Linked DNA regions of Homo sapiens. The protein of the gene in region 2 purifies or fractionates together with the protein of the main gene of each other region. This does not show direct contact. Each region holds a gene or a part of one and is shown on either strand. Other genes may lie near its edges.

Region 1 (7,521 bases), about 140 Mb from region 2:
ACAGGAGGGCAGAGTGGCTGTTTGGAGAAAGGCAAGATAATTTTACAGTCTAGAAGAGAGCCTGGAAATGCTCCCTTCCACAGAAGTTCCAGCTCCTGCAGCCTAGTTCCGTCCTCATGCAACCTTCCTTCCGTGAGGTTCTGCCTACCAAGAGGGAAGGAGGAAGGACCTGTGCAATGAGCTTTAACCCGAGACAGAGAAAGTGAACAAACTGGAAGTCCAGCTGGCAAATGAGTCCTTTTTGTGTCCATATGAATGAGTTCGCCTAGGTGAAATAATTCAAAAGTGGTTTCTGAATTTGCAAGTTGAGAACTCAGCTCTGGATTCTTGGTGACCCCAAGTACAGGAGGCCTGAAAGGCCCTGTCTGAGAATATGCACTAGGCAGCTCCATCTCCTGTACTCACCTTTTAACTCCAGTTAAGAAGCTATCATGTACACCCCATCACTGAGAAGATGTGGAAAGTGAGGCCCAGAGAGGTTTAGTAACTTCTCCAACATCACACAGTAACTTTTAAGGGCCAGTCCCTGAACTGTCATCCTAAAACTCATTAGGTGTGTGATCCTTTCAAAATGCTCTACTGGCCGGCATGTTTAGGGATGAGTAATGGAGAGAGTCATAAAAACATACTTTTAAATTAAATTCTTTTTTTCAAATTTTCTGTACATTGTGCTTTAATTACCATCTCCAGCCCCAAGAGTAGAAGGGCTAAAGAAAGAATGGGCATTCAGTCTAAAGTCTTAACACTGACTACCTGAGCCTTCAACAATTTCTGGTATTAACATTATATAGCACTGCACCCAAGAAATTCACAGATGCTTTTAATGAGTGTTTCTGTATAGATAGCAGTGCCTTTATTTCTAGATTGAATTTCCAGGCATAACTGGAGAACTTAGACCCAGTTTCCAGCCTCCAAGAAAAATAAGTTCCTTTTGCTGCTAGCCCTCATCTGCTATTCTTTTTTTTTTTTTTTTTTTTTTGAGATGGAGTTTTGCTCTTGTCGCCCAGGCTGGAGTGCAATGGTGCTATCTCAGCTCACTGCAACCTCTGCCTCCCTGGTTCAAGCGATTCTCCTGCCTCAGCCTCCCGAGTAGCTGGTTTTACAGGCATGCACCACCATGCCTGGCTAATTTTTGTATTTTTAGTAGAAATGGGGTTTCACCATGTTGGCCAGGCTGGTCTTGAACTCCTGACCTCAGGTGATCCACAAGTCTAGGCCTCCCAAAGTGCTGGGATTACAGGTGTGAGCCACTGTGCCCGGCCTATTCTTTAAATTAACAAATATAAAAATTCAGTGACTGTTCCCAGCCTCTTACTGTACAGTTTCACTCTCTGCACTGTTCCTGTTTCCCCTTTGCTGCTACGTGGGTTTCCTGCTCTGACCATTTCTTTCATATGGTTTCCCTCACACCTCTGAGACTTTAGTGCTATTTCTGGGCTTTATTGCTGCATTGTCAGTTGTTTATTCTTTGTTCCACTGCCTGTTCCTTTGAGAGCAGCTGAGAAATCAAACCTTGGCCTTCATGTTGTTGGTAGAGATTTCACTTCATATTTGTAATAATTATTCATTTATGTTTTGAGAGATTTCCCCATCAGTTTTAAGATTGAACATTAGAAGTGATTTACTGTCAGCCAAAGTCAAATATAATGTGGTTTTCACAGGGTTTTGTTATTTTATCTTTCCAAGCAAGGTACAGCTTTATACACTCATGATTTTTGATTACCAAAATTCAGAAGTACGTTTGTGTTTAGCAGTTTTTACGAGAATCTTACAAGATCATTTTAAACTTTCATTAAAAGCAAGGAGAGGTCCAGAGGGCTTTGAGATTGCAGTTTGTCTGAAGCCCTTGACTTTCATTCAAATTGGCAGTCTCTTTTCCAAAAAGAGCATTATTCTCTCATCTTTAAAGTATGCTGGGTTTAGTCAGTTTGGATACTAAGCAAGTTATCAGGAGATTTCTCAAACATTAAGAAGAGAAAGCCAAGCCGTCTTACTCAACCCAGGGCCACAGCCTCCAGGGGTGTTGGTGAATAACAGTATAGTGTCCCTTCATTTTAATCTATTCCTGCCTGTGTTGACACTCTACTAGGACAACCAGATGAAAAGGGAAAAAGCTCGAGTTGAGGTACCAAAGTCTTTTGCCTACACAATGTTAGAGGGAAACAAAGTCTGACTGAAGTGTTCTGCTGTGTGGTAAATATTACTCTCTCCAGAGAACATGATTATAACTTCTCTAGAACCTGGAAAATGTACTCCCTGCCCCCTCTGCCCCGCCCCCAACCACCCACCAGGAGGGAATAAAGCACATTGTCTGGGAAATGGCTGAAATGCAGGCACAAAGTAGGTTTTCAGAAGCGGCTATGAGTTGAACCTGTTTTTATATGGGTCTAAAAATCTCCCAATTTAGTCTGTTTAGTTATTGAAGGATTGCTATTGTGTTTGCAAGCATCACTGACTTTTACATCTTCTTATTGGTTCTTCTTTGGGTATCAAATCTTCGCATTTGGAGGAATGTATTTTTTAAATAAAGCGAGGCACAGCAGCCCTTAGTAGAAAGCAAAATGGTCTTCAAACTGCCTCTAGGCCATTTCCATGAGGATATCTTGACCCATAAGTGGCTTCCGAATTTCTGTATATGAGGGGCTAGTTGATAGGATGTTTGAAGCTGTGTTTACAGATGATCAGAAAACTGTCACTCATCCATATCAAAGGAGAGGAAGTTATGGAAGTCCTAAACCCATTAATCCACCCTTTAGCACTGCCCAAACCCAGACTTCACTTCAAATTAAGCACATTAAAAATGGAGTTCATATTTTCTCCTAAAAATCAGCTTCTTGGCCTCCCTTCCCAACTTCCTCACCTGTTTAAGGCAGTATTTTCCTTGTCAGGTTAGAAACATTATAACTATCTTTGTTCTCCTACCTAGCTTCCTCCTTCCCAATACCCAATTAATCATCAAATTCTATCATTTTTTCCTTAATAATGTCTTGAAAATTTTCCTCCATTCTTTATATTCCAGCAAAACAGAAACAGAAGGTGAGGATCCAGCTCTCCAGTCTGGATGGGGAGACTAGAAACACACTACATACAAGTGAAAAAAATTTCATAGGAATTACAAGAATACCAAAACAATGCAAAATAACAGCTCCAAACAAGCCTTGTATACACATCTCCAGGCAATAGCTGGCACTGCATTTGTCCAGTAGTAATCTAGGGCAGTGGGTGGGGAGGTCCTTCTGCTGCGCAGGGGCTGTGGTGAGGCCTTTCAGGTCCAGCTTAAGCCACTCTGATTCCAGCCACCACCCCACCTTAGATGGGCAAGCTGTTCCTTTCCAGATCAACTCATCTCCACCCACAACACAGTGCTTATGTATTCAGTCTAAAATAGCACAATTTATCAAGAGTATTCCATCGTAATTTTAAAATGTCGTGTTTATATTTTACCTCCACCTGGACAGAAACTCGTTCCTTTGTATTCTTACTGCCCCTCCACCTCCCCATAGCAACCAGCACAAGATTCCACCGTGTGTAGTCTATAAATAAATGTTAAATCATAGAGCCTTAGAATTTTGGAGTCAGACGGGGATCTTCAGAGTTGCATTTGTCCAGTCCTTTATAGATGGGGAAACAGGTCTAGAGAGATTAGGTGACTTGCTCAAAGCCACACAGCTGGCTATTGACAAGGCAAGGAGCAGAGCCCAGGTTTCTCCTGCCTGAAGTCTGTACCCTGAACTGTCCTTAGATAATCAGTGACAGACACCTGAGTTCACACAAGGTCTCCAGGGGTTGATGGTGATAGGAGAAACTGGCTTTCCCAAAACATGTACAAAGATTCGGTCCACGCCCCTAGCAGACCTTCGGGAGGACTAACTCCTCAGCTCGGCGTCCAGCAGAGTCCCAAGTTACAGTCGCACTTGTTTATGCGTCTGTCGGCCTCCTCCGACAGGACCGAGTACTCGAGGGCCCCGCGCTCAGGGGCTCCCCTCCGGCCCCTCCCCCGCCGCCGAGCTGTCACACAGCCGCCGCGCGGCCCGCCCCCACGTGGACTGGGCTCGGAGGATCAAAGTCTGTTTGCAGACTTTGCAGCCCGGCCCCCGCAGGTGTGCTGGGAGTTGCGATGGTCCGCAGGCCAGGACTCCGCCACACCCGAGGGGACCCGGCCAGCCCCTCCCCCTCCCGCTGCACGCGGCCCGCGCCCCCAATTCGCCCGCCGCTGCACCCGGCCACGGCCCCCCGGCCCACGCCCGGCTCCGGGAGGAAAAGGCCCCGCCCCTATCTGTTGGAGCCGCGACCCCGCCCCCTTCCCGCCCCTCCGAGGCTCCATCCAATAGTGAGCGTGGCTGGGCGGGACGCCGAGGCTGTCGTGAGGGGGTCCTGACCAATGGGGAAGCGTGCCGGGCCTGGTGGGCGGGGCGGCAAGGCCTTGTCACGCTCGGGTCCGTGTGAAAACGGGGGTTCCGAGTGCAAAGCAAAGTTTTTTTGTAAACCGTCTGCAAAGGCGGGGGGGCGAAGAAGGCGCCCGAGACCGGGCCGAGTGCAGCTGCCGTGGCCGCCGCCTCTCTAGCTCCTCAGCCATCCGCTCCTCAGTCCAGCCGCCGCAGAGGAGACCAGCAAGCAGAGCCCTCAGATGCTCGGAGCTTTCTCGGCGCGAAGCTGCCCGTCGCCCTCTCCTGCCGCCCTCGCCCGCCGCCCTCCTGCTCCTGCTCCGGCTGCGGCTCTTGGTACCCCGGCTCCGGGAGCCCAGCTCCCCGCCACCGCCGCCGCCTGGGTGTGGGGGCTGCTGAGGCTGAGCCGGGCCTCGGCGCCGGCTCTGAGGACGGACGCCTGAGGAGCTGCGCGGCGCGGCGCCGCCGGCTGGCGGAGAACGCCCACAGGCGCGGGGCTCGGCGGCTTGACCCGGGCTTGTCCCCGTGCGGCCGCGGGGGCCCCTCAGCGGTTTCCCGAACGGCCCGACTCGGGCGCTCCTCCGTGTCGCGGTCGCCGACCCTCCGCGTCCCGCCAACGCCGCCGCTGCACCAGTCTCCGGGCCGGGCTCGGCGGGCCCCGCAGCCGCAGCCATGGGGTGTTGGGGTCGGAACCGGGGCCGGCTGCTGTGCATGCTGGCGCTGACCTTCATGTTCATGGTGCTGGAGGTGGTGGTGAGCCGGGTGACCTCGTCGCTGGCGATGCTCTCCGACTCCTTCCACATGCTGTCGGACGTGCTGGCGCTGGTGGTGGCGCTGGTGGCCGAGCGCTTCGCCCGGCGGACCCACGCCACCCAGAAGAACACGTTCGGCTGGATCCGAGCCGAGGTAATGGGGGCTCTGGTGAACGCCATCTTCCTGACTGGCCTCTGTTTCGCCATCCTGCTGGAGGCCATCGAGCGCTTCATCGAGCCGCACGAGATGCAGCAGCCGCTGGTGGTCCTTGGGGTCGGCGTGGCCGGGCTGCTGGTCAACGTGCTGGGGCTCTGCCTCTTCCACCATCACAGCGGCTTCAGCCAGGACTCCGGCCACGGCCACTCGCACGGGGGTCACGGCCACGGCCACGGCCTCCCCAAGGGGCCTCGCGTTAAGAGCACCCGCCCCGGGAGCAGCGACATCAACGTGGCCCCGGGCGAGCAGGGTCCCGACCAGGAGGAGACCAACACCCTGGTGGCCAATACCAGCAACTCCAACGGGCTGAAATTGGACCCCGCAGGTGAGCCGGGAAAGTCGCTGCCGCAGGTGGTTGGGTTTGGGGTGCCCAGAGCCTCGCCTGGCCTTCGGCGGGGTGGCCCGCACGCCCCCTGCTGCCCGAGCGGGCCTGCGCCGCGCCGCCCCTGCCTGCTCCCTCCCCGTCCTGCACACGCCCCGCTGCTGCTCCAGGAAATCAGAACCCCCTCAGTCGGGTGCAAGGAGCCGGCGACGCGTCTGGCATATTTGTAGGTGGGGGCTGTGGGTCAGACCCTAAGAAAAAGGGTCAGGAGGTGATCATCATCCCGCTGCAGTCCACACCCGCACTTGGCTGTCTTTACAGGCTGCAGCAACTTTGCTGGAGACTTGTCTGGTTATGGTTATAACAGCGTCAGAAATGCTTCCCAATTCAATTCCTTGGCCCTCTTGGGAAACGGAGAGAATCCCCAATTCGTCCCCAGTAGTTGGGTGCTGGAAACCTTGCTCTGCCAAAGTAGTTCTTATGCCCATTGAACTCCGTTTCATAATATGCATTCAGAGCGTGTAAACCCTGGTTAAAGGTTTCTTTTATGAACAGCAGTGTATGCTTCAGCTAATTGATCCCTAATCCTGGAAATCATAGATTTAGGACCTGTCTGGGCATGTTTAACATTTTCCCAGGACTTTTCATAATCGTACTGAACTAAAAGTGATGGTAATTTATTCATCTTATATTTTTAGTGGATGCTTTTTATATTTAACATTAAGTGCTCTTGAAGGAAATTTGAAAATAAATGTTGAAAGAAAGGAGATGGAAATGACTCAACCAGTGTCCTACTACCCAAGCTCAATGGTGCTTAACAATTTGGTCTTATTTCCTTCACTTACGTTTATTTACCTTGTATCATTATAAATTATGCTACATAATTTTCCTTTTCGAGTGCAGAATATGAAGTTAGTGAAATTCAAGTTGTACATTGGAAAGGTTTAATAAGTAATTGGTTTTCCTCTCACTCCACTCGGCAAGGTGTTATTCCAAAGAAAATTAAGTTTCTCTGGTGTGTAATTTCAAAAGATCAATACTTTTTATCTTTTTGAATACTTTTGATCAATACTTTTTGAAAAGATCAATACTTTTGATTTAAAAGTTAGTAGGGCAGGTAGTCATTTAGTTTCAATTTTTCTAATAATCTCTGTGATTATTGATTTTTATTGTTGATTTGTCAGTTTTTAAACCCCCCTACCAAGAAACTTTTATATTCATAATAAAAGTTTAAAAGTTAAAATTGGTTTTATTCTCAAGCAATTGGCCTCAGTGACAAAGAGTGACTAGAGAGTGCCCGAGTGTCAAATCAGGTATTTTGTATTAGTAGACTTATTCCTAGCTGCATTTAATTTTGGTGTTAGCATTCAATTTTATGTTTTCCTTTGTATATACCATAAAGTATAGCAGAATGGTTGCAGGACTCCACCCCCATAGAAAATATACACTATTTTGGAGAGGAGGAGGCAGGAGAGTGGTTAGGAGGGTGAAGAAGCAGTATCACAATGACTTAATTTAGCCCTGGCTATTATGTCCTGGCTCATTCCCAGAATGTCAATTTATATTAAATTGCTCTGAGCACATTTTTTTAATTGTACTTTCTGAAAAAATTTTCACCTTCATCACCACTTAAAAAGAATTAGACAAGGATGTTTATATAAACACTTTAAATGTATTTGATATAAAATTTTTATTTCTTTGTAGACCCAGAAAACCCCAGAAGTGGTGATACAGTGGAAGTACAAGTGAATGGAAATCTTGTCAGAGAACCTGACCATATGGAACTGGAAGAAGATAGGGCTGGACAACTTAACATGCGTGGAGTTTTTCTGCATGTCCTTGGAG
Region 2 (7,740 bases):
CTTTTGTTTTCTTTCCTTAAACTGTTTTATTAAATTCTCACTACACCCCTACAAGAAACACTCTCATTTCCTCGCTTGTAAAATTAAGATTTTAATTGAAGAGGACTGAACAGTCAAAGAGAAACAGGTGAGGGAATTTTCCCCACTCTATGGGGCTGAATGCCAAGGTGACATTTAGAGTGACACCGCCGCCCTGGTTAAAGCTACAGAGTCATCAGTACAGGAGAAAGGAGGGGGTTTTTGGTATCAGTGGTGTGGGATGTAGAGAGGGGAGGTACCTGCAGTCAGTGCAGCCCCAGAAGAGGCATGGGGAGCACCTTTGCTCTGAGCATGCTGTCACCATGTGCCACCAAGAGCTGAGGGAGGGGTCTTAGTTCATGAATCCTTAGTCACAATGACAGTGGAGTAAAAAAAAAAAAAAAAAAAAAAAAAAAAAAATATATATATATATATATATATATATATATATATGAACCTTTCTCTTCAGGATCTAATCTCTGATTAGAAAAGATTGTAAATATTGAATGAGTTTTTCTACAGAACAGTGGTTTTTCTTTTGCCATGGCTACTACCTTTAACAAAGTACTTTTAATTCAGCCTTATGGAAATAGAGAAAATTTCAGGATTTGAACAGTCAATGAACTTTTTGAGTTCAGGAATAAACATAGTAGATTAGGTTTGTAAGAAACTTTTCTCACAGGTATATCCTAAATACCAGACAGCTGCCCAGGGGGACTGCTTCAGAAGCATCCTAGGTCAGATGGAAAAAGTTCTAGGCACCATGCAGACAGACCACATAGCTGGCCTCTGGACAGAGGTAGGAATAGTACAAGGCAATGTCATTCCTGTGGCACTAGGTATAGAAATTTATACATGTTTCTAGGTGATGATGGTCCTTAAAATGCACTTCTCTTCAGGTACAGCTATGATTGTGTCATGTACAATACCAGAAAGAGAAGAGAGGCTTTTTGTGAATAGCACACTCCCTATATAAACTAGCCTGTCTTGCTGGCTGCGTAGTTGAACACATACTCTCCCAGTACTGGGGAAAAGGACCCTTTTTAGAATGTGCAAGTCCCATGAGAGAGTAATATGTCCATATTAGAGTTTTGGTGGTGGTTTTTTTTTTTTTGTTTTTTTTTTTTGAGTCAGGGTCTTGCTCTGTCCCTCAGGTTGGAGTGCAGTCATGCGATCATGACTCACTGCAGCCTCAACCTCCTGGGATCAATCAATCCTCTCACCTCAGCCTCCCGAGTAGCTGGGACTACAGGCATGTGACACCATGCCCAGCTAATTTTCTTATTTTTTGTAGGGACAGGGTTTTGCTATGTTGTCCAGGCTGGTCTTGAACTCCTGTGTTCAAGTGATCCTCCTGCATCAGCCTCCCAAAGTGTTGGGATTACAGGTGTGACACAACATACCCACCCCATATTAGAGTTTTCATTTGAAAAAAAAAAATGTTGTTGCTGGTTGTTATATCTTCAGACTTAACTTGCTTCTAATTCTAGTCTGGCTTCTTTAAGATAGTGTGATTCTAAGAGTGTTCTAAACTTAAGTGGCAAAATTTAAGTAGATGATTTTATATTCTTGATTAAAGGGGGCCAGGGAGGTTAATACAGTAAATATTTGAAATTGATATAAAATAAATACATACATATATCTAAACCATTCATTTTTGCAGCTTTCAGGTAAAATCTAGCACTTTATTCCAGTCTATGAGATGTGGTTAGTTGATATCATCTAATATTAAGTAATGACATCAGCTATCCAAATCCTGGGCACAATTCCTTTAGCAATGATGACCTTTAATAGAATTTAGCTTAAAAAACTAGGAGATTTCTGCTACAGTGATGCAATCTTTCACATCTTATTTATTAACAAAAATCAACAATCCAGCTTTCCTTAGGTCTTCACGCACTAAGAGTTCTCTAGTCACAGAAATCCTAGCCTTGTCTGCACTCTCCACAACTATTATAAACTCCATGTTAGTATCAAGAGTTCCAGTAAAGACCAAATATCTCTTGGCCACCAACATCCCACATTAGGAAATGTGCATTACTAATTATTCTGTTTTACATTACTTCCTGCTCTAGGGGATGTATGTACAAATTCATTCATAGAAAATTGGTAAAGCAGCCGGGCGCATTGGCTCATGCCTGTAATTCCAGCACTTTGGGAAGTCAAGGTGGGAGGATCGCTTAAGCACAGGAGTTCAAGACTAGCCTGGGTAACATAGGGAGACCGCCGTCTCTATCAAAAAGAAAATAAAAGAAAAAAAATTGGTAAAGGACACACGTGATAACTGAAGTTTCCAGATGTGAAGAGAATTCTCATTCTCAGGCAGTGGACCCCCCCCCCCACTCCCCTCCACACTCCTTCCACCTTCCCAGGCCACCTGGCCTCAGGCTGAGGGGGAGGTGAAAGTTTCCAGGAACCAGAGGGCGTCCAAACCCAGCGGCCGTGCGGAGCTCAAGGTCCCGCCGCTGCTGTTGCGGCACCAGCCTGGCTCATGGACATCACCACGCACCTGCAAGGTCAGGTTTCTCTCTGGTGGCTGTGGCGGCTGCTACCCTCCTCGCCCATTTCAATCTTACTTTCACACTACATGACTCCACTATTACTTCCTGAACACTAGCTACCTACGCAGCTGTAATAGTGGACACTGTGTCAACCTTTAAGCTCGCACACTTATCAAACCTCGTTCTTCTATATTAAAAAGTGCTAGCTTCCCAACGGGACTATCCAAAGTGCAGTTGCAGGACCTGCCAGGAGCCCGCAGGGCTGCGGGTGGTTCTTGCGTAATCGCGCCAAGAAAGACCTGGTTCCAGTTTCAGGGACAACTCGCCCATAAACTTCTACTGCGCAACAGCATCTGCTGCTTTGTCTGACACTTGTTGTTTTCAAGTACCCCTAAAAAAGCGAAAGAAAGACTTACCTTTCTCGGAGGCACGAACCAAGCAGCCTAGAAGACAAATGCGCTGCTCGGAGAGACTGCCGCGGCAACCAACTGGACACCCCAAGAGCTCACTCCTCCGCGGTTTTATATTCCGACTTGCGCACAGGAGCGGGGTGCGGGGGCGCAGGGAGTGTGGGTAACAGGCATAGATTCCGCTTGCGCAATACGTGGTAAGAAACCAGCTGTGAGGGGCTGGCCCAACGCAGAGCGGCGCGAGGTCCGCTTGGCATCTACAACAATCGAGGGGCTAGTCCAGAAGTTCAAGGCGGGGTTACAGGTTGGGGAGGAACTGTTAAACTGTGGACTTTTTCTCACCTGTTGGAATAAGCTTCAGGCAAAACTTTGCCAACAAAAACCGGTCCAACTGATTTTAGACGAAAGTCCAAAAGCAGTTTAATGCAGGACAGATAATCTTTTCCACAAATGATACTGAAAAGACAGGACATCTATAGATTCCCCCCCGCCAAAAATAACCCTTACATAAAAATTAAGTGGCTAGATATAACTGTGACGAGTAAAATTACAAAACGGTTTTAAAAAACAACAAACTATTGTCTAAGGCTAGGCAAAAGGTTCTTAAATTGACATTAGTGGCAAGACCGGTAAAAAGAAATGTTGATGAATTAGACTCCATAAATTTAAAACTTTTGCTTTGTGAAAGACCCTGTAACGATACTGAAAAGGTTTACCTAGGAGAAAATATTTACAAGCCATATATCTGGCATACAACCAGTATCTAGAATATGTAAATAACTCAAAAATCAATTATTTTTAAAAATCCAATTAGAAAATAGTCAGAAGACATAAACAGACACTTCACTGAAGATATGCAGATGGCAAATAACCATATGAAAACCTTTAATGTCATTAGCCATTAGAGAAATGGGAATACGAGGCTTTCGTTGTTCTTCGCCTCCCACTAGGGCGGGTTGAGGGTCTGGCTCCAGTAGCCCCGGGTGCCTCTCACTCCTTGGGCGCAATGCTACTATCCTGGCAGAACCCTCGCCGAACCCTCGCAGGACGCCCCATCGGGTCCGCCAGCGGCTAGGAAGCCCGATTGTGTCGTTCCTTTTTCCCTCTGCGCCTCCCACCGCCAGTCCCTTTTCCAAATGCGCCTGCGTCTGCCCTCCACATCTCCGAGCTCCGTCTGGCTTCTTTCTCCCTTGCCTGTGAGCGCCTGGCGGCGGATGCATTGAAAGCTGCGCACCACCGCCTACCGAGCGTTTTGGGGAGTGTGTGGAAGTTGTTGGCAGCAGGTTTTGACAGCAGTACCCTATGGGCCTAGTCGTTGACGGTAGCACCTGGTTTTGTGTGCCCCAGCCAGCTGAGGCCAGGGTGTGTGGTGTGGGCCACTGGTACTGCTCTTCTGCCACTATAATCCCTCCCCCTACCAGGTACCTGGTGCGTAGAAGTCTAAAGACCTGTGAGGTCTAGCCTGGCGCCTGTAATCCTAGAGAATAAGGAGGTTGAGGCCAGGAGTTAGAGACCAGCCTGGGCAACATGGGGAGAACTTGTCTCTACTTTAAAAAAATTTAGCCCAGTGTGGTGGTGGCCGCCTGTAGTCCCAGCTATTTGGGAGGCTGATGTGGGAGGATCACTTGAGCCTCCCACATCAAGGAGATCGAGGCTGCAGTGAGCCGTGATCACAGCCACTGTACTCCAATCTGAGCAACAAAGTGAGAACCTGTCTCAAAACAAATTCCAACCTGATTCTGGTATAGCATCACATGACAGGTAGCAGCCCTAAGGGCGATCAAAGTATTTTACCCCAAAATATATTTCTGACATATTTTGGAATGGTCCTGTGCAAAGCTATCTTTTGCGAGGGAAATTTGTGTTCTGTGGACAATCTCCTTCCCTTTCCAGGTCTTTCTCTGATCCGGGAGAGATTTAACTAAGAGTCTGACACCGTTTAAGGTCATTTACCTTTTGAGGTACATATGCCATCTATTCTTTCTGAAGCATATTACAGGCTTCACATATGTAACAAGAACCCTGGCTTCCACAACCTCCCTCCTGCCACCACTGGCCAAACCCCTCCTCCTCCAAAATGTACCGGCTTTCCAGGTCAAACCAATGTATACCTTACATATATTGACTGATGTTTTTGCCTGTATCTTCTGTCTTCCTAAAATGTATAAAAGAAAACTATAGTCCAAACACCTTGGACACATGTTCTCAGGACCTCCTGATGCTGTGTCACAGGCCGTGGTCACTCATATTTGGCTCAGAATAAACCTCTAAATATTTTACAGAGTTTGGCTTTTTTCACTGGGTTTCCCCACTCATTTTATTGGCATTAGCTCATACTCTTTCTGTCCAATCATATTTCTACATTGCTGTCTATATTTTATTAATCCTAAGTTAAAAATAGACAATTTCCTCTATATGCTTGGGTCATCATTCTGCAGGCTCCCATGTATACATATTAAATACATTTGTATGCTTTTTCTCCAATTAATCTGCCTTTTGCAGGTTGATTTTTCAGTGAGCCTTCACTGAAGTTTCCCTTTGGTCCCTGCACTGGTAATTAACTCAAACTGTTTTACCAAAATTTGATTCATAGCCTTTATCTCATTTTACCAGAAAAATAATTTGGATCCAACTGTTCTCTATAAACCAGCAAGTTTATATGTTTTACTATCTCACAACTAAAATTCTAAAATAAAAGCTAGAAGACCTTTATGTGTATATTTGTTTAAATATATTTACACATATGTACATGTATTATGTTGTATGTTATGTCTACATAATAAAATTCAGTGTGGTAGGCCAAAAATCCCTTAAGAAATGTTAATCTGATTGGTTTAAATAGATGGGCACTCACACAAAAACATAGTAATTAACCTAATTTTTTTAGTTCATGTAACTTAATCTTTAAAAAAGTAATTGGTTTTAAAATTGTTGATAAAATAAAATTAAAAACGTCTTTCTAATTGTCAATATATATTTTTGCCTGTGTTTACTGGTGTGGGGGCTATGGCTCTCAGCCCCCCAAAGATTTGCTGGAAAATCACTGACATGGGCCACATTGATTAGTAAGAGAAAAGACATACAAATGTATTTAATGTGTATACACAGGAGCTTTCAGAATAAAGACCCAACTTCTCAATGAGTTATAGAAGTTTATACACTAGTCTTGAAATTACAGAAAGAATGGGGGGCTTGGATTCTGGTAAAACAGATTATGGGAGGAGAAGAGGAATTTATTGAGGGGCAATGAATGATTGGTGAGAGAATGATTGGATTGAGCAACAGATATTAACTTGTAAATAGTTTTCTTTGGAATTTAAATAATCCTTGGAGGCAGTCATTGTACTTCTATAAAGGTCTGCTTGGGTGTGGTTACATTTTGGTCTTCTTTTCTTTAACAGATGAGATAACAGGAGGAGGAGAACCAACAATTGCTCTCCTTGGTGGGTCTGGTTGTTAGGCAGATAAAGGAACTTCAGCTTCTTTGGGAAGGATGGTGGGGTTGGAGGAAAAGTCAGAGAGACCTTGAGGCTTCTTTAGTTTAGCGTGTCAAATACCATGTTTTGGCATATCAGTTTCTGAGCACCAGCACTGGTCAGTTTTATATTTGCCTGTGCTATTAAGGTCATGAAGCTATAAACCAGGCCTAAAGCAAAGTGATATATATTTATGCAATTCTTTGATAAATAAGATTAATTTAATATTATTTAACAAAAACAGCTGTGGCTGGGTAGTGACTCCCACCTGCAATGCTAAAACTTGGAGAGGCCAAGGTGGGAGGATCACTTGAGCCCAGGAGTTTGAGATCAGCCTGGGTAACATAACAAGACCCAATCTCCATAAAAAAATTTAAAAATTAGCCAGGCATGTGCCTGTGATCCCAGCTACTCTTAAGGCTGAGGAGGGGGGATCCCTTGAGCCCAGAGTTCAAGGCTAGAGTGAGCTATGATCACACCACTGCACTCTAGCCTGGGCAACAGAGTGAGCCTTTGCCTGTAAGGAAAAAAACAAAAGTTGTATTTTCTGAGTTATCTACAGATACCCATGTATTTAACTTTATGGCTCTTATGTGGGTAAACACCTCATGTTAACAGGCTATATAATTATTTAATTTAAAAAAACTTGAAATAATGACCAGCTCCATCTAATATCTCAATTTTTGTAAGAAATATAGGTATAATTGTTAAAAAATAAATTAACTGTAAATGAAATAAATGTTTATAAATGAACTCATGTAATTTAAAGTCTTAAAATTTTATGTTAAATCATATATACAAAATAAATGTCTGTATCATAGTCAGATAAGATAAAATGATTGGTTATCCCACATTTTTAAAAAAAGAAAAATTATAGGACTAAGAGGTAGGGGTTAGGAAAATAAAAGGTCTAAAGTTGAAGAGGACTAATAAAGGATGAGCTAATAAAAGAAGTTTTATGTGTTATTGACTTGGCTGGAATTAAAAACAAATTGTTTGTGTGTTTTTCTAAAAATTAAACGTTCTCAGGTAGGGGACCAGGGGACAGGCACTGATACAGAACCAGAGTCTGGTTCCTTATATTTAAAACAACAAGATTTCTTGAAGTATTATCTGATTTTAATAAAATTTTAAGGGGTTTTGATTTTTAAATTTATACTCTGTTTTTAAACAGGTATCTTCTCCTTGACATCTATTTAATTTTCCTAGTTTTGGGTTAAAAATGTTGTCTTCTTGATTTAAAGTGGTAATTTCATTCCTTGAGGTACAGTTGTTTTTTTTTTTTTATTTCTCAAATTCATATTGCAGAAGTTCATCTTTTACAGTTTCTTGCTG

The links.
Region 1: the proteins of DIRAS3 (region 2) and SLC30A1 purify together in Homo sapiens (affinity purification with mass spectrometry; 4 studies listed by BioGRID and IntAct, with this or other methods). This does not show direct contact.

Annotation. Positions count from the first base shown.
Region 1 is NC_000001.11:211,576,149-211,583,669, reverse strand, and holds the start of SLC30A1 (proton-coupled zinc antiporter SLC30A1), read left to right. Parts: upstream 1-4,508; 5' UTR 4,509-5,057; coding exon 5,058-5,679; intron 5,680-7,380; coding exon 7,381-7,521. UniProt on the Homo sapiens protein: Zinc ion:proton antiporter that could function at the plasma membrane mediating zinc efflux from cells against its electrochemical gradient protecting them from intracellular zinc accumulation and toxicity.
Region 2 is NC_000001.11:68,047,613-68,055,352, forward strand, and holds the start of DIRAS3 (GTP-binding protein Di-Ras3 precursor), read right to left. Parts: upstream 3,016-7,740; 5' UTR 2,936-3,015; intron 1-2,935.